Linked DNA regions of Homo sapiens: region 2 is linked to region 1. The links come from fine-mapping of genetic effects on gene expression. A gene starts in region 1. The other region holds a variant in brackets. All regions are shown on one strand. Distances are from middle to middle. Region 1 holds the start of LAMTOR5 (late endosomal/lysosomal adaptor, MAPK and MTOR activator 5). Region 2 overlaps RBM15-AS1 (RBM15 antisense RNA 1).

Region 1 (9,458 bases):
GTGCCTGCCACCATGCCTAATTTTTGTATTTTTAGTAGAGACAGGGTTTCACCATGTTGGTTAGGCTGTCTCACACTCCTTACCTCAAGTGATCTGCCCGCCTTGGCCTCCCAAAGTGCTGGGATTACAAGTGTGAGCCACCATGCCGGGCCTACTTTTTATCATTATTTTAGAGTATACTACTCCTACTTATTAAGACAAGGTTAACTATAAAACAGCCTCAGACAGGTCCTTTAGGAGGTATTCCAGAAGGTATCATCATTACAGGAGATGACAACTCCATGCATGTTACTGCCCTGGATGACCTTCCAGTGGGAGAAGATGTGGAGATAGAAGCCAGTGATATTGATGATCCTGACCCTGTGCAGGCCTAGGCTAATGTGTGTTTCTTCTTTGCTTTTAACAAAAAAGTCTAAAAAGTAAAAAAGTTTAAAAAAAGAATTTTTGTACAGCTGTACAACTGTTTTAAGTGTTATTATAAAGTCAAAAAGTTTTATTGACTCACTCAGAGCAACTTCCAGTGTTGTAAGCTCCATTATGGTAAGTGCCCTATTCAGATATACCTTTTAAAAAATTTCCCTATACCATACTTTTACTGTATCTTCTCTACGTTTAGATACATAAATACCACTGTTATAACTGCCTACATTATTTAGGCTACAAATCTTTGTAGTCTAAGAGCAATACAGCCTAGGTGTGTAATAGGGTGTACCACCTAGGTTTAAGTACACTCTATGATGTTCATACAACAAAACTGCCTGACACATTTCTCAGAACATATCCCCATTGTTAAGCAATGCATGACTGTATGTTTTTTCTTTTTACAAGGCTGTGATAGTAGCAGTTGTATATATATACTTTTTTTCACATATTATTCTGAGGACCATCACTTGGAATATCTTTAGTAATTTTATTGCTTTAGAAGTAATTTTTGGCTGGGTGCAGTGACTCATTCCTGTAATCCCAGCACTTTGGGAGGCTGAGGCGGGCAAATTACTGGAGCCCAGGAGTTCGAGACCAGCCTGGGAAACATGGTGAAACCTCATCTCTACAAAAAAATACAAAAATTAGCTGGGTGTGGTAGTGTACACCTGTAGTCTCAGCTACAACTCGGGAGGCTGAGTTGGGTGAATCGCTTGAGCCCGGTGGGGTTGAAGTCACAGTGACCCATGATCACACCACTGTACTCCAGCCTGGTGCCAGAGCAACACCCTGCCTCAAAAAGAAAAAAAAAAAAAGTAATTTTTATTCTCTGATTAGTTTTCCTTTGTGCTATTTGTTACTTTCTTTTTGTTGGTAAACTGATAGCTTCTGCCAATTCTTATTCTTCATTTAAATAGCATTGTGGCCTGAGAGCACATTAGCTTTAGGGATCAACTTGTCTGTTCCTGTGATTCAAAAGATTAAGAACTTTTCCCAAAGTAGTCTGAATAAGGAATCACTGATGAACACAGGGCCGGCCCCCGCCAATTTTACCAGGAATTTTTCTGAACAAAAAGGAAAGGATCTGCTGAAATCTACTCACCCATTATCTGATTCTAGACACACCACAGGAATATCAGTGGGGTCAGAGGTTAGCTTAGCTGCTTGCTGGGCTAGAACAGATATCACTCCAGCATGCTCATCTGACAGGGTCCCGCGGCCTGGAAAATAGAGATGATATATGTCACCTGATTGCTCATAGAGTATTTCTGCTAAAATAAGCTAGCTGGCTGTTTTAAAATGTCTACAGAATTGTCTTTTTATTAATGTCTGTATTAGTCTGTATATATTATAGTAACTAAATCTCGGGTACAAAAGTACCTATAAATTCTAGGTACGAAAATTAATTACTAAGTGTACTTTACAATATATTTCTGTATATAAAGGCAACACAAAGTTAACTGTACCTGAAACCAAATCAGGTAATAGACATGCCACTATGGCAGAGCATTTGGATGTACTATTACTATACAAAACATTTTGACCAGATCCGATGCCGACGTTTGAGCCTTGAAGGTTTCTTGAAGGAACTCATTTAGTTTTAGATTTCCATACCTGAATTTCAGTCTTTCCATTAGTAAGCCTAGCAAATGCTTCCAAAAATTTACCCTTTTTCTCCCAAATGACTGATCTGCATGTTAAACATAACTGAGTTACACCGATTACCTCTTTCAGTTACCCTTCCAGCAAAAATTCAGAGCTTTAAACATTCCTGCATTAGGAGCAACAAGTCTTGGGTTTACTAGTTGTCACTAATTAACTGAATGCTTTACTTATTTACCTTTCCAAACTTATTTCCTCATGTGTAATTGCTACCATTTATTAAGTATTATGTCTCAGTTCTATGTAAGCATTTTATACATATTATATAACCTTAAAATATCGTGATTAGGCCGGGTGTAGTGGCTCATTCCTGTAATCCCGCACTTTGGGAGGCGGAGGTGGGTGGATCACCTGAGATAAGGAGTTCGAGACCAGCCTGGCCAACATAGTGAAACCCTGTATCTACTAAAAATACAAAAATTATCTGGGCGTGGTGGCAGGCGCCTGTAATCCCAGCTACTCAGGAGGCTGAGGCAGGAGAATTGCCTGAACCTGGGAAATGGAGGTTGCAGTGAGCCAAGATCGTGCCACTGCACTCTAGCCTGGGCGACAGAGCAAGATTTCGTCTCAAAAAAAAAAAAAAAAAAGTGATTAAGAGGCCTCAGGGCCAGACAAAAATCCTAGCTTAACGACTTACTAGCTGCATGACCTCAGGCAAGTTATTTAACCTCTGTGTCTCAGTTTCTTTTTTTATTTTTTGAGACAGAGTCTCGCTCTTGTCATCCAGGCTGGAGTGCAATGGTGCAATCTCGGCTTACTGCAACCTCTGCCTCCCAGGTTCAAGCGATTCTCCTGCCTCAGCCTCCCGAGTAGCTGGGATTACTAGCACCTGCTACCATGCCTGGCTAATTTTTTTTTGCATTTTTAGTAGAGATGTGGTTTCACCATGTTGGCCAGGCTAGTCTCGAACTCCTGACCTCAGGTGATCCACCCGCCTCCGCCTCCCAAAGTGCTGGGATCACAGGTGTGAGCCACCGCATCCGGCCTCTTTTTTTAAATTTTAAAAACATATATATATGTTTATTGTAAAAATAGAGATGGGGGGTCTCACTGTGTTGCACAGGCTGGTCTTGAACTCCTGGGCTCAAGTGATCTGCCCACCTTGGTCTCCCAAAGTGCTGGGATTACAGGCGTGAGACACTGCACCTGGTCCCTCAATTTCTTTTTCTACCTCACTGGGTTGTTATGAGGAATAAAAGAGTATATGTAAAGCACTTACAATGGTGCTTGGCACATAACAGCTCAATAAATATAATTCTATGATTATTACCATTATCAAATAACAACCCAGTGAAGAAAATGAGGGCCTAAAAGGTAGTTTTTTGGTCCACGTTCACACTACTAACAAATGAAAGAGCAAGGGATTGAGACCAGGTATGTCCAACACTGAAATCCCATTTTACTGCCTATTCACTTCTTGTTTAGTGTAGTTGAGCTTCAAAATTGTACACCACCCACCTTGCCGGGTTGTTGTGAAAATTAAAGATAATGTATTTAGAGCCTAGCAGTCTCAGCATATGGCATACATTCAATAAATGGTTAACAGCTGTTATTATCTGAAGTCCTTTCTAGACTCAATTTAAAATGATTCAAATATTATTTTTAGTAGAGACAACTATTTATTGTTATAGGACTGCAAGGAACATCTTCCTTCATAAATACCAACTGAAAAGTTTCAATTTTCTGATACTGTTATTTGGAGATAATCTCTACTCTCAAACTCAGAAAGACCTGGCAAGGTAACAGGAAATAAAAGCTAGAAAATAATAGCACGCTAGGCTCCAAGTCAACATCAGATGCTATGCAATTCATCAAATAGTTGGTATGAGAGATACTTACAACCCAGATTAAGTCCTTGTGAATCTGTGCACAGGACTCCAACAATGGAGGGATTCTTCATTCTAATTCCAGGAACACAAGAGAGTTGAAGTACATAATGGGAGAAAAAGGATTTAAATAAGTACAAACATACAGGTGTTCTATGTACCAGGCATTAAGTGCTTTAAATCAATATTTCTCAATCTTTTTTCATTGTCACACCCTAAGAAAAAAATTAAGTTCTAGGGCCGGGCGCGGTTGCTCACGCCTGTAATCCCAGCACTTTGGGAGGCCCAGGTGGGCGGATCACCTGAGGTCGGGAGTTCAAGACCAGCCTGACCAACATGGAGAAACCCCGTCTCTACTAAAAATACAAAATTAGCCAGGCGTGGTGGCGCATGACTGTAATCCCAGCTACTCGGGAGGCTGAGGCAAGAGAATCGCTTGAACCTGGGAGGCGGAGGTTGCAGTGAGCCGAGATCACGCCATTGCACTCCAGCCTGGAAGACGAGCGAAATTCCGTCTCAAAAAAAGAACACAAAAAATTTAAGTTCTAGTTAATTAATTGAAATAAACCAGTTTCTCTCTGATGAGAGAAAAAAATGTGCTAAGTACTGCTGAGTTCTGGAGGGCCACAAACACTGCGTGAAAAACATCTAGGATGTTTTCACTCTTGTTAAAAACGCATGTTTTAGTACTAACTCATTTAAAACAACTGTTGAAAAACTCAAGTTACCTCCTGGAGGGTAAGTGGAAGCTGAGGGACATCGGTGGGAGGCAGGTGTCTCTCTGTACCCTTTACACTTTTCCAGTTTTGAATTTTACATAGATACTGCTTGTTCGAAAAATTTAAAGAATGATTTTTATCTACTTAAGCACCAAGTAACTGATAGGTTACACACAGGAGATACGTGTTTGTTTACACTGCAGGGCTCGACACTGCACAACTGGCACAATCTTCCCAAAAGTCAACCCGTTTTCTAAAACTTCCGCAGAACCACCCTGACCGTAAAGACGATTTCAACAACGAGATAGGCAGTTTTGGCCCGTGGCCTGGGCCCGGGAGACTCGCTCAAGAGGGAATGTGCGGTGCCCGGCAGGATTTTAATTCCGGGTCACCCGCCCCGCCCTGCGGCCTTGGGTAGAGTTTAGCCCCCTCATCCCGTGTCCCGGGGGTCGCGCGACGTCCCCGAGACGCCCTGGCCGGTACTCGCAGCTCGCGCCTTTCGTTCCGCTCAAGTTCCTCCGCCGCGACCTCAGGACAGGCCGAAGAGGCGCGCACTACTCACGTGTCTTCCAAGTGCTGCTCCAAGGTCGCCTCCATCCCACCCACCGACCACTCCGGCTCAGAACCCAGCGGCACGGCACGTCCTTCTCCACCACAGGCCTCAGTCACTTGACGCGAGCGGGGCGTGGACCGTAACGGCGCCTCCAAAGGGACAAAATTGATCACGGTGCAACGTCCGCGTTCTTTACTGGAAAACATCACTGCGCTTCCGTCGCACAGAGCCTGACGAAGGCTTGGGCTCCCCGCGCGGTGACCGTCGAGGTGACCTGCACCTGGCTCCATGGCGGAACCGGCCGGCACGGATTATTCCCCTCTCGGGAGAGGTCTGCAGCCGGGCCTCAGTGCTTCAGTTCGTGGCCTGGCATTTTGTGTCAGTGTTTTTTAACCTTTGGACCCTAGTTCAACCGACTCCGAGACCTAGGGGACAGATCTTAAGTTTTACAATAACCCAGGGGTCAGACAGGGTCTGATCTAGCCTGTGGGGCAAGTACGGGGAAGACACGGGACCTCTTGGAGGGGGTCAGTAGGCTTGTAGGGGGAAAGACGCACACAGAGACTAAAGGACGAGATGGAGCAAGGTTCAACCCCCTAGCTGAGTGTTGGCAGTGTCGGGATTTTAACGAAGACATTGGTGCTTATTATGGTGAGGGGACTCAGGACAGTTTAGGGGAAGAGAGTGGCATTTGAGTCCTAACTCGTAAGGAAGACTGGGTAGGACTACTTGAAAATAACTTTTAAAAATTAATTATAAAGCTGGTAAAAATAGGAAAACATCTATGGCCCCACTGTCCAAAGACGACTTTTAACTTCTTGGAGAATATCCTTTCAGATAGTTGTCTTTGTAAATGTATACTTTTAATGTTTTTTCGTTTGCCTTTTTAAAATAAATTTTTTGGGGGACAGGGTCTTGCTCTGTTACCCAGGCTGTAGTGCAGTAGAACGATTATAGCTCATTGCAACCCGGACGTCCTGGGTTCAAGCTATCCTCACCTCTCAGCCTCTCGACTGGCTAGGACCACAGCCTCGAGCCATCATGTCTGGCTAATTTTTACGTTTTTTTGTAGAGATGGGGGTCTCGCTGTGTTGTCCAGGCTGGTCTTAAACTCCTTGCTTCAACAGATCCTCCCACTCCAGCCTCCCAAAATGTGATTACAGGCTGAGTCACCACGCCTAGCATGGTTTTTTTTGTTTTGTTTGTTTTGTAAGCAAAATTGACATACATACTGGAGGTACAATTCTGTAGCTGGCCTTCTTTACAGAGTTTAGAATAAATGTCTTTCCATGTCAAGTTTTCACTTACATCCTTTGTAGTAGTTGCAAAATATTCCATTTTATAGCTGTATCTTAATTGTGGATTAAGGTTGGAGTGCAGTGGCACTATCATGGCTTAGTCCAGCCTCAGCCTTCTAGGTTCAAGCGATCTTCCCACCTCAGCCTCCCAAGAAGCTGGGACTACAGGGACCCGCCACCCCACCTAGCTAATTAAAAAAAAAATTGTAGAGATGGAGTCTCAGTGTGTAGCCCAGTCTCAAGTGACCCTCCCTCGTTGGCTTCCCAAAGCGCTGAGATTGCAGGTGAGCCACTGTACTTGGACTTTTTTTTTTTTTTTTGCTTTTGTTTGTTTTTTGTTTTAGCTATTACAATGCTGGTTGAATATCCTCATAGCTAAATATCTGTGCAGTTTTAAAATTTCCTTATAAGTTACTAGAAATGGAATGACTGGGTTAAAGGACATGATCATTTTTTAAGACTCTTGATACATACTTACAAATTGCCTCCCGAAAAAGTGGTGCTAATTTACTCAAATTGGTAAGCCTCACCCCCTCTGTGGATCATTCCTTGCACTAAGTTTCTTCCAACTCTGTCACCTCCAGCTTTTTACTCACAGCCTACCTTCCAATCTGGGGCCCAGCTCCCAGATCGGAAGATACCAGACTTTGGTATTGAACCAAAGTCCAATACACTGCACTGGCATTCAGAGTCCCTTTTTATTCCGCAGCTGTCATAGTGAAGCTTGCAGCTTCCTTGAAATTCCAGTTTGTTTATTTCTTTATTTTTTTGAGACAGAGTCTTGCTCTATCGCCCAGGCTGGAGTGCAGTGGCGCCGTCTCAGCTCACTGCAACCTCTGCCTCCTGGTTCAAGCGATTCTTCTGCCTCAGCCTCCCGAGTAGCTGGGATTACAGGCATGCACCACCACACGTGGCTAATTTTTGTGCTTTTAGTAGAGATGGGGTTTCACCATGTTGGCCAGGCTGGTCTCAAACTCCTGACCTCAAGCGATCCGCCCACCTCAGCCTCCCAAAGTGCTGGGATTATAGGCATGAGCCATTGCACCCAGCCAAAATTCCAGTTTGAATGTTATAATTCAGGGGTCTTGGACTCCTGCTCTAGAGAAATTATTCATGTTAAGTTAGGGGTAACACAGTACAGGCCATATAAGTTTTAGAAAAAGCAGTTTAAAACTTAGCATTAGAAAACATAAGTACTGCCTGGTGAAATGGCACGTGCCTATAATCCCAGCTACTCAGGAGGCTGAGGCAGGAGGATCCCTTGAGCCCAGGAGTTCAAGTCCAGCCTGGGCAATATAGTCTAGTGGCCACATTAAAAAAAGTAAAACAGCCGGGCGCGGTGGCTCACGCCTGTAATCCCAGCACTTTGGGAGGCCGAGGCGGGTGGATCACGAGGTCAGGAGATTGAGACCATCCTGGCTAACACGGTGAAACCCTGTCTCCACTAAAAATACAAAAAATTCTCCGGGTGTGGTGGTGGGCGCCTGTGGTCCCAGCTACTCAGGAGGCTGAGGCAGGAGAATGGTGTGAGCCTGGGAGGCGGAGCTTGCAGTGAGCCGAGATCGCGCCACTGCACTCCAGCCTGGGCGACAGAGCGAGACTCTGTCTCAAAAAAAAAAAAAAAAAAAAAAAAAAAGTAAAACAGGGCAGGGTGCAGTGGCTCACGCCTGTAATCCTAGCACTTTGGGAGGCCGAGATGGGTGGATCAGTTGAGGTCAGGAGTTTGAGACCAGCCTGGCCAACATGGCGAAACCCCATCTCTACTAAAAATACAAAAATTAGCTGGGTGTGATGGTGCGTGCCTGTAGTCCCAGCTACTCAGGAGGCTGAGGCAGGAGGATCGTTTGAACTCGGGAGCTGGAGGTTGCAGTGAGCCGAGATTGAGCCACAGCACTCCAGGCTGTGCTACAGTGTGAGACTGTCTCAAAAAAAAGTAAAACAGATGAAACTAATTTTAATAACATTTTATTTATTCAAACAATATATTCAAAATATTATTTCAACTTGTGATTGATAAAATACTAATGAGATATTTTATATTTTTTCTCCAGTACTGTCTTCAAAATCCAGGGTATATTTTTCAGTTAGCAGCACATTTCAATTCAGACCAGCCGCATTTCAAGTGCTCAGCAGCCACCTGTGGCTAGTGGCCACAGTATTGGCCAGTGTAGCCCAAGGATATCTCAAATTATCTCAAAGCTAGATCAGTGATTAAAGGATTCTCAGGCCAGGCATGGTAGTTTTCAGGCCTGGTATGGTGGTTTACGCCTGTAATCCCCGCACTTTGGGAGGCCTAGGTGGGCGGATGGCTTGAGCCCAGGAGTTTGAGACCAGCCTAGCCAACGTGGGGAGACCCTGTCTCTACCAAAGCACAAAAATTAGCTGGGCATGGTGATGCGCACCTGTGGTCTCAAGTACTTTGTGTGAGGTGGGAGGATCACTTGAGCCCGGGAGGTTGAGGCTGCAGTGAGCTGAGATTGCACAACTGCACTCCAGCCTGGGTGACAGAATGAGACCCTGTCTCAAAAAAAAAAAAGGATTCTCCGAAAGACTGGCGATTGCTTTTTAAGCTATAAGGAAGGCCTTTGAAGGGAAATCAAGTAGGAAGAGGATGATAGCTGGCTCACATGTCCTTGCCACATGGGAGGTGAGAGAGCAGGCTACTCCTTACCACCCCCGCTTTCTCTGCCCTGCTGCTGTCTTGCCCCTGTGCAAGTAGGCAATGGGAGAGGAATAGTATATATAAATTGGGCAAGTGCTAGGGGCTGGAGTGATGGTTGGGGAAAGTATCTGACCCTTGTTTTCTACTTTCTTTAGCTTGTGGGGTATTTAACAATTCTTTGTTCTTAGTTTTGAGTGCTGGCAACCATTTCTGGGGTGACAGGAAAAGTTCCATGACATCCGTATTAGAGCATTTGTTTCATTATATTGTAATTTTTTATGTTTACTTTTGAAAAAGTTCATTCTTTTCTCTTTT
Region 2 (17,408 bases), 87 kb before region 1:
ATTCCTTCCTCATCAATAGCAAACAAGTATTGAGCACGGTGCTGAGAGCCTTTACATAGCAGCATCAGCACCCACCATCCCTCCTGGAGAGGAATGGGCAACAAAGTCCTTGCTTCAATGTCTTAGATTAGTTGAGAAAACACATTTTGAAGAGTGCATAAACTGGTCCTTGCTTGCAGGTTCAAGTGGCCCTTCTAACCGTCAGAGTCCATAAATGGAATGGGAATTTGGGGAATGGCTCCTTCCCATTCCATCCTCCAGTTTCCTCCCATTCCAGGCCTATTTCACCTCCCTGATTTCTTAACCCTCAGACTTCAAGAGGCCACGCGAGCCTTCATACACTGCGCATCTTTCTGCAGCAGGACTCTATGGGGGCCAGAGAAGCCTGGGGAGAGGTGGCTCCACGTGCTTTACCCAGAACAGCATTCCTTCAGGTTGAGTTCACCCTGCCCAGACTGACAGCATGGTGGGCATCCACTCTTCGCTTCCATTCTCAAAAAAACATCTGCTTCAACTGTTATCCCAAGCACACAGTCCCCCGACCAGGATGAGAGAGAGCTGGGAAGGAGAAAGAATCGCAATCTGCACACTTGCTTCATTATTCCACTTAATACTCACAGTAGCACCACCAGTTTATAGAAAAGGAAATCAAGTCTGAAAATGACTTACCCAAGGTCCCATGACATATAGATGGAAAACCAGGACACAAAGGCAAATCTGACTCCAAACCTGCCTCCTAACCACTCAGGTATCAGATTTGGCATTCACCCATTCATATCCAGAGAGTTAGCCTTTTATGCACTTCCAAATGGGGGTTTCAGCCCAGCCTAAGGAGAGCCTCAAACTCCTTTAGTGAAGTCCAGGCATTCTCTGAAGCAAACGGCCCCACCCATCCACCGTGGCAGGCCTGGCCTCCCATGGCTCCTCTGTGACATGTAGACTGGGCTGTCCCTGTTACTTGAAACACTTTGCTGGGAAGAGATCCCTTCAGCCTTCTCCCTGAGCCATCGCATGTTATCAGCCTCATCCTTCCTTCCTTCCCCATGCAGGAGGGAGCGACTTTGCCAGTCCAGAGGTCTGAGGTCTCAGCCTTGCCAGGTGACATCTAGGGCCTCATAGCCCTTGCTGGAGAGGTCCTTGCTGGAGAGGCCCTTGCCGGAGAGGCCCAACATGCTCACAACCCTCGGAATGTTTGCAGCTTGGCAGGACTGAGTGACCCAGTTTCCCCGGCAGGGAAGCTCACTTGGCTAGTGGGCTGTGCAGGGTTTGGCATCTGCACGTCTCTCCTGCCCTCTGCTGGTCACCAGGCAGGAGGCTTGCCAGGGCAGGCAATCCCACACTGTGTCCGCTGTGGGAATTGACTCTCAGGCCTGTAAATATTTGCTGAATTAACTGAATGAATGAGTGTATCATGTACAGTTCTAGGCTTTAGGGCCTAAAGTGGCCGAAGAGACAGGAGCTACTCTGGGAAAAGAGTGAATTCTGCTGAGCTGGGCCTGTGTTCCCAGCAGGCCTCCCCCTATACTTTCCTCCTGCGTCCCTGCATAACCAGCTCTCCGCTCCCTCAGAGGCGCTCCCCTCCCTCACAGCGTGCTGCCATTCTAGGATGAATTAGATCTTCCCAGGCCCAGGTCAACTAGTTTCATCACCACCTGACTCGTTACATTTCCTCTACCACATTCCCATGGAGTGGTCTCAAATCTCTGTTTGAATGCCTCCAATGGCAGGCACTCACTATCAGGTAGCCCTTTCCACTTTCCGAGAGCTATAATCAAAAGAATGCTCTTCTTTTTTCACACTAAATCAGCCCTGACACTTCCACTTAGAGACCCAGTTCTTACCTGTTGGTCACTCAGAAGTCTGACCAGGCCACCCTGTGACAGCCTTTCAACTCCTTGAAGACGGCAGTCATATTCCTGAGACTTCTCTTCTCTCCCCGCAAACACACTGGGCTCTCTACTTCCTGCCATTTATCTTAGTAAGTCTGGAAGACTCGGACAATGACTCTCCAGTGGTGGAATTCTAAAAGATGAAGGTATTTTCAGTCTGAAGACTTTCTGCACTTGAACTTAGCCAAAAGGCCAAGAAGCGAGTCTGAAGACCTTCTGAAAGGCAACTTTCTGTCTACTCTAGGAGAAGTCCTAAATCACAAAATGGGATAATTATTTGGCCACAGCTTGCAAATTTACAAAGCTCTTTCATAGGCCACCATCTCAGTGTGTAAAAGTATCATCATCCCAATTTTAGGGATGAAAACAGCAAGGCCTCACAGAGGAAAAATGCTTCACTGGTGATCATACAGGAAGCAAAAGCTAAGTGGTACTCAGACTCAATCTTCTGATTCCAAGTCTACCATTCTTTATACAAAGGCATTGCTGCTTCTGCCTTTTGAGAACGTAAAAAGAAAAAAAAAAGGCAGATAACAAGTATTGAGCACTTACTATATGCCAGACATTGTTCTAAGGGGCTTAATATTTATTAACTTCATGTCCAAAATGACTTTGTAAGGTATGTATGTACACTTATTATTATTCTAATTTTATTTTCCAGGGTTAGTACATTCAAAATCCAGGACACTAACCAGTGCAATTCAGCTCAAGAACTAACACTTAACCACATCACCATGGCTCTCCATGCTTGCCTAAGTTTATACATACATCCATCTTTGTTTCTCTCCTTGCCTCTCATTTATCGGACCAATGATACTGTGGAGAAAGTTAAAGAAGAGTTCCCCAGTGGTGGGAGTGGGGAGACTTTCCTTCCTTTCAAGGCAGTGAACCAGAGGCAGTGAATCCTAGCTCTGCCACTTTTCAGCAAGTGACCTTGGGCCAAGTTATTCAACCTCCCTCCTCTCCTCGGTTTCATCATCTGTAAAATGGAGGTGCCACCAGCACCGACTTCATTGGGTTTCCGTGAGTTATGAGTTAATGTTTTTGTAAAGTGGTTAGAGAAGTGAATTTCTATTACTAAATTTGGACCCTCGGCTGTTTGAGGTGACTGGGGCAAAGTCTAGAGGGTGGGTAAAAGCAGGCACCATCCTGTGGGAACACAGAAGGAAAGAGCCCTGGAGCCCAGACGGAGGATGGGCTGGGGGAGGTGGAGTGGAGAGAGAAACTGATGGAGAACTGGGATGACTTTTGGTGGGATCTGACCCTTTCATGGAGTCACAGTTTCTCTGAGTTAAAAGTATCTTTCTAGGGCATCTAATCCAGCCAAGCAGTGGAGCAGGCACAAGTCTCCAGTCTCAGCCAGAGGCCTTGGAAGATGAAGAATTCCATTTCCTAAGACTGGGGGCACACTGCATTAAAATAAATGACACTTGGTAGGCTGGAGTTGAGGGAGGTTCTCTCTGGCCTCTTGAAGAAACTAGACAGCAGGGATATAAGGTCCAGATGCCTTTACACCTGGCCTCAATTTGGTCTCATATTCTGTTTTCAGGAACAATACAAATCTGTAGCAGAACTACATGAGTTCCAAGCTGATAGCACACTGATAATAATAGCTAATACTTATGAGGGATTCCCATGCACTAGATGCAATTCTGAACGCTCACTTGTGTTAGCTCATTTAATTTTTACATCATTGCTTTAACGGTATTAGCCCCACTTTACCCAGGAGGAAATGGATGCACTGGGAAGTTCAAACACTTGATCATCATCATGCAGCAAGTTGTGATCAAAATCAGAGGATGAGAACCAGACCCTCTGACTCCAGGAGCAGTATTCTTAACTATTATAAAAAGCCAGCCATAGGCGGATCACTTGAGGTCAGGAGTTCAAGACCTCCCTGGCCAACATGGATGGTGAAACTCCGTCTCTACTAAAAATAAAAAAATTAGCCAGTCGTGGTGGCGGGCACCTGTAATCCCAGCTACTCAGGAGGCTGAGGCACGAGAATTGCTTGAACCCGGGGGGCAGAGGTTGCAGTGAGCTGAGATTGCACCACTGCACTCCAGCCTGGGTGACAGCGAGACTCCATCTCAAAAAAAAAAAAAAAAAAAAAAACCCAGCCATTATCCTCATTTCAGAAATTATTGAAATTGTGTATTAAAGAATATTCATTTTGAAAAAGTAACCAAATCTTTAAAGGCTTCAGAGAAGCAGATTTCTCTTGTAGCTTGTGGCAGCATTTTCTCAGAACTGGACGGGGCCACCAGTAGCGTCCTTCATTCCTATATCCGGGTGCTTGTTCCATGCAGTCATGGTATTAGGTTCTGGGGATGCTGCACACAGTGACACACACTCAGTCACTGCCCTGATGGGGTTTTTACAACCTGGTGAGGCAGAGAGATACTGGTCAAATAGTCACACCAACATATAATCCACAACTACAATAAATGCTATGAAGGAAAAGACTAGAATGCTCTAAGAGTGCATTATGGGTAGCAAGAACTGCCCTAGACTGGGGTGTGGGGTGGGGGAGGGATGTGTCAGGAAAAACTTTGCCTGTAGGTTTTTATATAAAAGAATGTCTTTGGGCTGGGTGCAGTGGCTCACGCCTATAATCCCAGCACTTTGGGAGGCTGAGGAGGGAGAATTGCTTGAGCCCAGGAGATTAAGACCAGCCTGGGCAACATAGTGAGACCTTGTCTCTACGAAAACAAAAAATTAATTAGCCAGATATGGTGGCACATGCCTATAGTCCCAGCTACTTGGGAGGCTGAGGTGGGAGGATCACTTGAGCCCAGGAGGTTGAGGCTGCAGTGAGCTATGATCAGCCACTGCACTCCAGCCTAGGTGACAGAGTGAGACCCTATCCCTTAAAAATATATATATTTTTCTAAGGTTATTTCTGAGTTAGTGTAAATAATGGACATGGACTCAAGTTTCAATTAGAGTTTCAATACTTAGACACAGGAAAGCTTCACCAAGAAACTTCTGAGACTGCATAGTCCTGGGGTAAAGAGGGTCAAAAATGCTTCTGGGGTGTCCATAGTGAGCTGGCATGAAGGAATCTTCATTGATCCCAGGAACTTACAGTGCTCTGGCTTTTGTTTCTAGAAATGACAATCCCTACACATTCACGGCATGCCCCACCCAGCCTTTAGTAGCAGAGTGATGTTAGGAGCCCTGGCTGGCTCTGGAGCCAGATGGACATGTGGTAAATTCCTTAATTTCTAGAGTCTTCAGTTTCTACTCTATAAAATGGGTTGATAATAATATCTACTTGCAGGGTTAATGTGAGACATAAATGAGATAAGACATAGGAGGTACCTGAGAATTATGTGGATCGCAGCAAGTGTTCAATCAATGTTAGCTAGTATAGCCTCCAACTCTAACTACAAACGGGCAGGATAGTGAGATGAACCTGTATTTATCTCAAGATAGAACATGGAATTTCATTTCTTTCTAAGCAAACCATTGCTTATTTCCACATCATTGTTTCCTTCTTTTCTTCCTTCCTTTCCTATTTACCTGCCAATTTACATTATCTAATTTTATAAACCTTCATGGGAAAAGGTCACGTGACAAAAAATTGCTTGGTATTTCCTATGTGAAAAGACAAAAGAGAATCAATATGGAAATTGAATTCTGTTCAACATTCCCAATGGTTATTTATAAAATTTACCCAGAGGGAGAGAAAGAATTCTAAATATAAAAATCACATAGAAATTTCCATTTAGGGAGCCCCAAAGTACTTTATTTTTAATGTATTATTATGATTGCAGAGGCTATTGTTAAATTTCAGATGCTGAGGTAACGCTGTGGGGGTGGCAAGAAAACCTGCAGGTGGATTTCACCCACAACATCTCTGGGGCCCGGGGAAGGGGCCCGGGGAAGGGGGTCTTCATGAGTGGCTTTCAGAGCTCAACCACACTCTAAGAAGCTACCTTGATGGTGGCTCCGGGCAGTGCACTTCAGAAATGTTTTTCTCTCTTTCCACATTGGAAATGAATCGATAAAGAAAAATATGACTCCACAGGGGATTCCTGCTTAGGTGTGTCCTGTGTGTGTGTGAAAGCTGCATCCAGATTCCTGACCCTCTGAGGGCAGGAAAGCAGCTCCTGCTCCCCCAGTCTCTAATAGAACACTCTATCACTTATCTCCCTCCCTCGACAATGGCTGGAATGCTGCCTCTCCAGGCAAAAGTAATTGCTAACCATAACTATACTTGACATTTGGACAACACTTTATAGCCACTAATTAGTTAAATGCACACAGCACCCTGTGAGAACCAGAAGGATCCCAGCTCTACTTCGTGGAGGGGAAAGGCCGGGTGGGGAGTAGGACCTCAGATGCAGCTTGAATCAGAGAGGCAATGTTTCCGGGACCTGCTGCCACTCCCTGCCCAGCACCACAAGCTCTGGGCAGCTATTAATAACAAGGATGTTAGTTTTCTTCTCCCTCAGAAAGACAATGAGGTGAAGGTCCCCTAAAGTATTTCTTCTGCTATGGTAATGGTAATACAAACAGTACGGTCAGCAATCTCTGCATCAGTCCGAAGCCCTGGTTAACTGACTACCAAGCACCTTTTGAGCTCTGACTATACATATATCTGTACTTCATCTGTGCTGAATATCGTGGGGAAAAGGCAGGCCTCCATTCCTTCCCTCAAGGAGCTCATAACCTAGCTGCACTGGAGTGGGGCAAAATAGCGGCCATGAAATAATCAGAGGGTAAGTCAACAGGAGAGAATGATGTGGAACGAAGTTTACTGAAGACTGAATGAAGGAAGGACTTGTTGCTCCAGCTCCTGGGAGTGCTGTAAGTGCACAACCAGCAGCTGTCAGCCACTCGGGGATTTCCTCAACTGCAGAGAGCTGCCTTGCCCAAGCTCATGCTCCTTTCCATGGTGGCCCATCCAATGACTGGACAATGCAGAAACATAAAAGCTCATCCGTCTTAGCCCATTGTGGGACAACTCTGAAGGAACATTCTAACTCCAGAGCTCCTCACTGAGTCAGCTGAGGCTGTGTTGGGCCTGTATTGCAGCTCCATTTTTTATCCTTCCCAATTCTAGTTCCTTCTCTTCCCTGCCACAGGTGTCCATCTCAAAGTAACCCCTTAAGAAAAACCCTGCATGCTAAGCTCTGCCTCAGAGTTCACTTCCCAGGGAACCCAATATTAGAAATTTAGATAAATGGACTTCAGTTAGGGGCCCACTCCAGAATTAGGAAAGTGGGATGTGGAACCAACATAAAGGAAGAAGGAAAAATAGGACTTTGTAGCAGATTATTTTCAGAGAGAGAAAAGTCAAAGATAAAAGGTTTTAGTCAGCCTGTGCAACATGGAGAAACCCTGTCTCTACAAAATATACAAAAATTAGATGGGCATGGTGGCGTGTACCTGTAATCCCAGCTACTTGAAGGGCTGAGGTGGGAGGATGGCTTGAGCCCAGGAGGCAGAGGTCACAGTGAGCCGAGATGGCACCACTGCACTCCAGCTTGCGTGACAGAGCAATTCCCTGTCTCAAAGAAAAAAGAAAAGAAAAATGTTTTAGTCTGTTTTTTTAAAAAGTTATCATATTA[CAATAATAAT/C]AATAATAATAATAATAATAATAATAATGGGATGGAGGTTTGTTGTGATAAATTCTCTTTTAGACTTGAGTTGACAACAAAACTTCCAAGTGGAGATATCTTGGGGGTAATTGTGTATATAAAATAAGTCAATTTGGGAGCTATGTTGATTGTTTTTTCCAAAGATGGCCACAACACGTGTTCCCATCCCACATGTTCTTCTATACTGTCAACTGGCCATTGCCCTCATCAAGAAGTGGAGTCTAATTCCTCCCACCCCACCTTGAATCTGGACCACTTGAGACTGCTTCAACTAATTGAGTACAGTAGAGGAGATGTTGTATGACTTCTGAAGCTAGATCAGAAAAGGCCATGAGACTTCTGCCTGGTTCTCTTGAAATGAAGCCATATGTCATGTAAGAAGTCTGACTACCCCCAGACTACCCTGCTGGAGAGGCTGTGTACAGCAGATGACAGCTGGCATCAACTGCCAACCATGCATCTTTATTTACCTTAGCACAGACAAGATAAATAAAGCCCCAACCAACATCCAACTACAACTATGAGGGAGACCTCAAGTGTGAACCACCCAGCAGAGCCCTTCCCAGATTTCTGACCCACAATTGTTTTAAGCTGCTAAGCACTGGAGTAACTTGTTATGTAGCAATAGTAAGGGGGAAAGGGTCATTAGCAGAGAAAAGAATAGAACCTCATCATTCTGTCTTGCACAATACCTTCCTGTCTTCCAGTCTTGCTCCACCCCACTCTGCCCTGCTTCACCTACCCTACCCTATCACTATCTACCTTCCACATAGCCACCAGGGATCCTTCTTAAGCAGTTCCCAGCTAATCTGATCAAATCACTTTTCTTGAAAACCTTCCATGGTCCCTAATGGCTTGTAAAGGTCCTCAGATTACAGTGTGCATTCAAAAGCATCTATATGATACACAGTATGTATCAGTAATCATCTGTGTGATGGTTAATTTTTGTGTCAACTTGATTGAGCCACAGGGCGTCCAGACATTTGGTCAAACATTATTCTGAGTATGTCTGTGAGGGTGTTTCTGGGTAAGACTAACATTTGCCGGGCACAGTGACTCACACCGGTAATCTCAGCACTTTGGGAGGCTGAGGCAGGCAGATCACTTGAGCCCAAGCATTTGAAACCAGCCTGGCCAACATGGGGAAACCCTATCACTACAAAAAATACAAAAATTAGCCGGGTGGGCATGCTGGCAGGCACCTGTAATCCCAGATACTCAAGAGGCTGAGGCACAAGAATCGCTTGGACCTGGGAGGTGGAGGTTGCAGTGAGCTGAGATCACACCACTGCACTCCAGCCTGGGTGACAGAGTGAGGCTCTGTCACAAAACAAACAAAAATACACCTAACATTTGACCTAGTAGACTGAGTAAAGCAGACTGCCCTCCCTAATGTGGGTAAACCTCATCTAATCAATTGAAGACCCAAATAGAACAAAAGGAGTAAAAGGAAACTCCTTCTGCCTGACCACTTGAACTGCACATGGGTCTTTTCCTGCCTTCAGATTCCCACTAAAAAATTGGTTGTTCTTGGGTCTCAAGCCTGCCAACTTTCAGAATGAAACTAACATTGAGGCCAGGTGCGGTGGCTCACACCTGTAATCCCAGCACTTTGGGAGGCTGAGGCGGGCGGATCACCTGAGGTCAGGAGTTCTAGACCAGACTGACCAACATGGAGAAACCCCGTCTCTACTAAAAATACAAAAAATTAGCTGGGTGTGGTGGCACATGCCTGTAATCCCAGCTACTTGGGAGGCTGAGGCAGGAGAATCACTTGAACCCAGGAGGCGGAGGATGTGGTGAGCTGTGATTACGCCATTGCACTCCAGCCTGGGCAGCAAGAGTGAAACTCCATCTCAAAAATAAATAAAAGAAATTAACATCATCAGCTCTCCTGAGTCTCAAGCTAGCTGATTGCAGATCTCGGGACCTCTGAGCCTCTATAATTGCATAAGCCAATTCCTTATAATAAATTATATATATATGTATACACACACAGAGTCATGAGCCACATAATGAAATTTTGGTCAATGACGAACACTGTCTTACAGGACAATGGTCCTATAAGATCATAATACTGTATTTTTGCTATACTTTTTCTAGGTTTAAATATGTTAGATACACAAATACTCCTGTGTTACAATTGCCTACAGTATTTAGTACGTTAACATGCTGTACAGGTGTGTAGCCCAGGAGCAATAGGCTATCCATATAGCCCAAGTGTATAGTGGACTATGCTCTCTGGGTTTCTTTAAATACACTCTATGATGTTTGCAGAACGATGAAATCACCTAATGATGCTTTTCTCAGAATGTATCCCTATTGTTATGTAACACATAGGATCCAGGAATTTGCTTTTTAAAACAACATCCCCAAAACAAAAACAATAAATAAATAAAAATAAAATAAAATGGAAAAAAAAAAACAAGATCCCCAGGTGATTTTGATTTTGATTCTGACACCAGTTGACAAACCTTAACCTACAAAATACAGTCCTTCAGAGCCCATTATTCTACACCCCCTTTTGTTAAACATAAAAATCTCACCACCATCCTCAAGAAGACAATGGTTTTGCTGCAGAACCTCTGGAACTTCTATATTTACCTATATTTATCCAGTTTTCCTAGTTTGAGCTTTAATTTCTGTAATTCATATTATGAAAACAATAATTTTATTCTCATTCTTGTTATATAAATGTATAAAATTGAATCTATAAATTAATATTTTATGTAATGTGGTTTTAAATATGCATGTTTGTAAAATTTATAAGTTAAATTGCAACAGTAGGAATACATTTTTCATATGCAATCCCCCTTCAGATACACATTGTTCCCTTCACCATCCCCTTCCATGCCTCCAGAGAACGTAATACTCTGCCTCACTGTGTTGAAAACCACTACTTTAGCTAGTGAGGGCTCCCTAGAGATCCCTGTTTGTGCTGTTATCTCCACCTGGAAGACTATTTGTTTCTTTGACAAATATTTGTTGAAAATTTAGCACGTGCCAGGCATGGTGCTATGCGATGTACCCCCTCCCCCCATAGAGAAGTAATCGATTCTTTCTCTGAGGGCCACAGGCCCTGAGTGTGCACTTCTATAACAGCCTCTCCACTCCATGATATAGTTAGCTGACTCCTTCACTACACTGTGCAGCCTCTAAGGTCAGGGACTACATCTTGTTCATCTTTGTATCCGTCACTGGCACAGTGCCCAACACCCAGTAGGAACTCAATTAATGTGGAGGAATGAGTTAATAAACCAATGATGATAGTCCAGTGTCTGGCACAGCATAGATGACCAATAAATATTGGTTGAAATGAAATTGAATTGAAAGTGCAGGTCACAGAAACAAGGGCAGAAAGAATTTAAAGAAAGAGGAGTTGTGACACTGTCAAAAAGATACCAAAAGATCAAAGAGGGTTAGCACTGGGGTGAAAAAGAAAGAGAAAACATTGGATTTGATGAAACTGAATTTAATATTAAGTCCTAGCATTAGCAGCGATGGACAAAACATTTATCACAAAACCAACAAGATCAGTATTTAATTGTCTTCAGCGTGTTCATGGTACTTCTTTAAATCCAGTTACTAGGTATGTAAGTTCCTGTGAATGGTGCAGGTTTATTATGCCTCACTCTTTACTACATAGCCAGTTAAAATGCTCACACATAAAGATCTACTCACACTTGAATTTTAGGTTTAACAATAAAATTGTATTTTCTATGAAAAGATGAGACCACCAGCTAAGGTGTGATCACCCCAGATACTTTCTCTCTCCATTCATTCACCAAACAAATGTTTACTGTGCTACATACTGTGCTGAGTAGAGTCCATTCTTCAGCTAACTGTGCAGGTTCTATTTGTAGAACTTGTTTGTGCTTGTGGCGCCATTTAAAACATTTTAAATCCTAGACTTGCCTGGATTCCCAAGGCAGCTTGACTCTTGGGAAATTTCTCTCTCTCTCTCTCTTTTTTTTTTTTTTAAACAGAGTCTCACTCTGTCACCCAGGCTGGAGTGCAGTGGCGTGATCTCGGCTCACTGCCACCTCCACCTCCACCTCCTGGATTCAAGCAATTCTTGTGCCTCAGCCTTCCAAGTAGCTGGGACTACAGGTGTGCACCACCACACCTGGCTAATTTTTGTATTTTTAGTAAAGATGGGATTTCACAGTGTTACCCAGGCTGGTCTCAAACTCCTGACCTCAAGTGATTCGTCTGCCTTGGCTTCCCAAAGTGCTGGGATTACAGGCATGAGCCACCGTGCCTGGCCAATTCTTGGGAAATTTCTCTTAGTACACATTTAGAACACTTCCTGCCATTTGCTGCTTCCAGAAACAGCACTAGCATTGGCATCCAAGTTGTCTCTCTTAAGTAGAAGTGCTGCCCCCAGTAGGTCCTGGTTTATATCCTGTGGTCAAATAAGTTGAGGGCTTCTTTACTGCAGGATTTGACAGTCTTTTATATGAAAATATGTGTGTGGGGGGTAGAGATGGAGGCTTAAATAATATGGTATAAAGTGTTTTCTAAAGTCATTTGACTTTTTACTCAACTTCATTTTATAGGATATTTGAAAATATTATCATAGATTACGTTCATTCATTCACTCAGCAACAATTTTTGTGTGCCAATTATGTGCCTGGCAGTGTGCTGAGACTGGATAAAATGGTGACTAACCAGACATACTGTCCTGACATTATGAAGACTTGGGGGGAGATACACATGAATCAAATGCACTAAACTGTAAATCAAATAATCATAAGAAATATGAAATTGTAATTTTGACAGGTGCAATAAAGAAAAGTCACATTACATGGCCAAATGAGAGCCTATAATAGGGAGCTTCAGTCTGGTCAGGGAAGGCTGCTCTGAGGAGGTGACCTGGGGCTGACATCTAAAGTATGAGTAGGAGTTCACATGGGGATGAGGGTGGAGAAGAGCATTTGCCCCAGGATGGGATAGAAAGAAAGCCAGTGAAAGAATGGAGAGCAAGATGAGGCTAGAATGATAGAAAAGGCCACACCATATAGGGCGCTATAGGCCATGTTGGGAATTTGTTTTTATCCAAGGAGTATGGAAGCCATTCAAATTGCTGAGTGGAGAACTCATCAGAGGTGAGCCAGAGTGAATCTAGGTGAGCTGTTTAAAAAGCTATTGAAGTGGTTCAGGATGGTGGTAACTTAGCCTAAGATGACGGTGGTGGAAGAGATGCTGAAAAAAATCAATTCATGTGTCTAGATCAATCCCTCTTCTACAAAGCAGTTGAACCCACACAGAGCTGGCTTTGTAATAACTCATAGATAACCATTCACTTCTCCAGAAATCTCCCCTCTGTACCTAAAGGATTGGGAATGGGGAAAGAAGTGGTCTGCTGTTACCTCAATTCATTCAAGCAAAGCATTGTGCAGAAACATGTCTTAAAATTAGAGATGTTCTCTGGAACATCTATTATTAGGATCTAAAAAGAGCCCCAGGACTCTCTTTCCAGCCTAACACCCACCTGTAACCATGCACTTTGGGGCCTACCATTTACTCTTCATGACTGCAAGTTTGATTTATGTACCTGGGAATTTCAAAGCTGGGAGGGATTATAGAAGTTATCATCACCCTCAACCATATGCAAAAATTCCTATATTTCTGAAAAACATCTCAAACAAGAGTCAACTCATTCTATACCCAATTATACTAATTATTAGCATCACAAATACAAGTCTTTCATCCTGTCCCCAAGCCTCTGGGGTCTTTAGAGTTTAAGCATCATCTCACAACTGCCCATAGCAATTCCTGACATTCTTACAGTTACCTACTCTCTTATTTACTCACAACAACTCCAGTTTACAGAGGGATTAGGTGCCATGCCCAAGGTTACACACTAAGGACACTTAGAGTCAGCACCCCTCATAAAACATTGCTTGGAATGTAATCAGAATTCTATACTGTGCATTCTGTACTGTCTGGAATGTTACAATGAACACATATAACTGGCCTGGTTTTCCCAGTCTGTGCTGGTCTACTTTCACTAAATTTTTATACTTGACAACTTTTTTTTTTTTGACAGATAAAATTCTATGTATTTATCGCATACAAGATATTTTGAAGGCTTAACTTATAAATATTTATATTTTAATTATTCATTGACTAATTTTTAAGTGTACCTGGTTTTTGTCCCCATATAAGCAAATTCTGGGTAGGAATCATATCATGATTTTCTCCCTGTATTTTAACTATTAGGCACATAAAACATGATTAATAATGATTAATTAGTTGATTTATTAAAGGAAATCACAATTTTATTTTTTTTTTGAAACAGAGTTTCGCTCTGTCACCCAGGCTGGAATGCAGTGACGTGATCTTGGCTCACTGCAACCTCTGCCTCCTGAGCTCAAGTGATTCTCCTGCCTCAGCTTCCCGAGTAGCTGGGACTACAGGTGCCCACCACCATGCGTGGCAAACTTTTGTGTTTTTTGTAGAGACGGGTTTTCGCTATATTGCCCAGGCTGGTCTCGAACTCTTGACCTCAAGCAATCCACCCGCCTCAGCCTCCCAAAGTGCTGGGATTTGAGGTGTCAGCCACCATGCCCTGCCTGGAACTTACAATTTAAAAATTTCATGGCAATACTGCTTTTACTCATGCTACATATATACAAACATTTGCAGAAATCCACTTTTTTGCTTTTTTCTTTTTTGAGACAGAGTCTCTATCTGTCGCCCAGGCTGGAGTGCAGTGGCTCGATCTCAGCTCACTGCAACCTCTGCCTCCTGGGTTGAAGCAATTCTCCTGCCTCACCCCGCTGAGTAGCTGGGATTACAGGCACACACCACCACACCTGGATAATTTTTGTATTTTTAGTAGAGACAGGTTTCCCCATGTTGGCCAGGATGGTCTTGAACTCTTAACCTCAAGGAATCCACCTACCTTGGCCTCCCAGAATGCGGGATTATAGGTGTGAGCCACCGTGCCCAGCCAAAACTCCACTTTTTTTCTACTAGATGATTTACAGCTGTTTCAAGAGGCTGGATTTCTCTAAACTTTGTCTCATCTCGCTAATAGTGGGCTCACAGAAATAGCTTGTGAGATCTCAGAAGTTGATTGCATTTGTGTGACAGACTTGATGTGCTAAAACACCCCAGAAAATATCTGAATCTACCACGTTTTGTCCAACTGAAACACAGTTGGCTGGGAGCAGTGGCTCATGCCTATAATCCCAGCACTTTGGGAGGCCAAGGCAGTCTTCTATGTAATTAATTTTAAAACCATAAAAAAGAAGAGGAAAAAGAAAAAAGAAACACAGTTGGTAACAGATGTACTCATATTCTATCAACTTTATAACCATACCAGTTTTTATAGGTGGGTGGAATTTCAGATGTGAGAGATAGGAAGACTACATAGAATATACTCTGAAGAGCTCTTTAAATTGATATCTCCACCAGACACTAGAAACAGCAAGAGAATTTTGCCTAATACCCAATAAACAGCTGAAAATCAAACTTTTATTGTCTCTGACTGTAGACGCTTTGTCCAATAATTGAGAGTCCCTGAATCTCCATCTCCTTTGCAAAACACCTAAATTTTGCCTCTAAACTGTCCACAATCAAGTGAAATACTCTCTTGTGGTTTCTATAAACTACTGAGGTTAAAGTACCATTCTTGAAGCAGGCAATTAATAACATAGTTATTGTATATTTCTACATTACATTTCTATAGAATTGTCTGCACCACTTGTTATCAACTTTCCCGTTAAAATATTGCACCTATTCACAACAAAGAACAGGAGAATGGATATTGGTTACACAACAAGCAGTGTCATCCACAATATGGAAGTATGACTTAAAATCAAATACTTTGCACAGACTGTGGTGGCAGCCAGGGGATCAATCAGGGTACACATATTATTCTTCTTAAATATTTGTAAAATATATTAGATCTCTAAGCCTCAGTTTCTTTTTCTGAAGAAAAAGGGATTATAAGCCTACCTGTCTCCTGGGGTTGTTGTGAGGGTAAAGTAAGCTAATGTGAGGAAAGTTTTAGTGGAGTGCCTGGCATGTAGTATGTGCTCAATAAAGGCTGGCTTTTATTTGTCAGTGAATGGATCATGTGATGATTTATTTGTTCACATTTCTACTTTGGGAAGGAGAGGCAGCTTCTCAAGACCCATGTCATTTCCAACAACGTGTTTGACATGGGATACAGTGGAAAGTGTCCAGTGGTGGCAGTCAGTGGACTTGAGTTCTGTCCCTTGCAGACTTATGTGCCAAATTGGGAAAGTCACAAAACATAGAATTACAGGACTTGACAGGGAGAGATTCTGTCTAGAGAATCTGGGGCTCCTGAATGGTGCCACTGCTCCTTTCCCTTCAACTCTACTGCCTCCCTCTTTAAAAACAAAACAAGGAAGGCTGGGCATGGTGGCTCAAGCCTGTAATCCCAGCACTTTGGGAGGCTGAGGCGGGCGGATCACAAGGTCAGGAGATGGAGACCATCCTGGCTAACACAGTGAAACCCCATCTCTACTAAAAATACAAAAAATTAGCCGGGTGTGGTGGCCGGCACCTGTAGTCCCAGCTACTGGGGAGGCTGAGGCAGGAGAATCGCTTGAACCCAGGAGGCGGAGCTTGCAGTGAGCCGAGATCATGCCACTGCACTCCAGCCTGGGCAACAGAGTGAGACTCCATCTAAAAAAAAAAACCCAAAAAACAAAAAACAAAGCCGGGTGCAGTGGCTCACGCCTGTAATCTCAACACTTTGGTAGGCCGAGGCGGGTGGATTACCTGAGGTCAGGAGTTTGAGACCAGCCTGACCAAAATGCTGAAACCCCATCTCTACTAAAAATACAAAAAATTAGCCAGGCGTGGTGGCAGGTGCCTGTAATCCCAGCTACTCAGGAGGCTGAGGCAGGAGAATCCCTTGAACTTGCGAGGGCGGAAGTTGGAGTGAGCAGAGGTCGCACCATTGCACTCCAGCCTGGGCAACAAGAGCGAAACTCCATCTCAAAAAAAACAAAAAAACAAATACTACCAACGATAATCATAATTAGCTGAATTTTAGTTTTCTAAATCTGCAATTTAGTGTTCTAATCTGCAATTAAGATATTAATGTTTGTCTTTACTCATATGATTACTGTGAGAATCGAATTAGATAATGTAAGTCAAATCATGAAATGACATGCTATAATCGAATCCTACTAAGTACCATGGACTTTACATGCATTGTGTCATATAATTCACCCAGTATGGAGCTGTGGAAGAAACTGCTGGTTGGCCCCAGTGTCTGCTCTTCCCCTTTTCCTTAGATATAAAACCTCTGCTTTTCAGCTGGGCTAAAATAAATTTAAAAATACACTTCCCAGCCTCTCTTGCAGCTAAATGTAGCCAGATGTCTATGTTTTGGCTAATGAGATATAGGTGGAATTTTAGTGTGTCACTTCCAGGTAGTGTTGTAAAAGGAAGCTGGCATGCTGCTGTTCCTCCCTTCTTTCCTGTTGGCTGACTGGAATGCTTATCATGGCTGCAACTTGAGAAGCCATGTCAGATCATAATTCAGTAGAAGTGCAGAGCCACAAAATAGAAGGAAATAATCTGTTCCTTGAAAGTTTTCTGAGTCATTTAGAGGAAGTTGGAGATATCCCTTTACTTTACCCTTTGTGAACTGGAAGTATCTGAGACAGGTCTCAATCAATTAGAAAGTCTATTTTGCCAAAGTTAAGGACGCATGCCCGTGACACAGCCTCAGGAGGTCCTGACAACATGTACCCAAGGTGGTCAGGGCACAGTTTGGTTTTATACATTTTAGGGCGACATGAGACATCAATCAATACATGCAAGATGTACATTGGTTTGGTTGGGAAAAGTGAGACAACTTGAAGCGGGGAGGCAGCTTCCAGGTCATAGGTAGATAAGAGACAGATGGTTGCATTCT

What was found. PIP is the estimated chance that this variant, and not a neighbour inherited with it, causes the effect.
Region 2: its variant is fine-mapped to the expression of LAMTOR5 in whole blood (INTERVAL, PIP above 0.99).

Annotation. Positions count from the first base shown.
Region 1 is chr1:110,402,394-110,411,851 of GRCh38, forward strand. LAMTOR5 (late endosomal/lysosomal adaptor, MAPK and MTOR activator 5) reads right to left here and starts at 5,301. Exons shown (of 4, transcript NM_001382293.1): 1 at 5,193-5,301; 2 at 3,925-3,986; 3 at 1,526-1,643. The coding sequence starts at 5,227. LAMTOR5-AS1 (LAMTOR5 and SLC16A4 antisense RNA 1) reads left to right here and starts at 5,416. Exons shown (of 3, transcript NR_102697.1): 1 at 5,416-5,561. RefSeq lists an enhancer at 5,243-5,472.
Region 2 is chr1:110,311,479-110,328,886 of GRCh38, forward strand. RBM15-AS1 (RBM15 antisense RNA 1) reads right to left here. Exons shown (of 4, transcript NR_036595.1): 2 at 7,287-7,404. Among named protein-coding and RNA genes, the nearest start is that of RBM15-AS1, 19 kb to the right of the region's middle. The variant CAATAATAAT/C (reference allele first, on the strand shown) is at 7,469.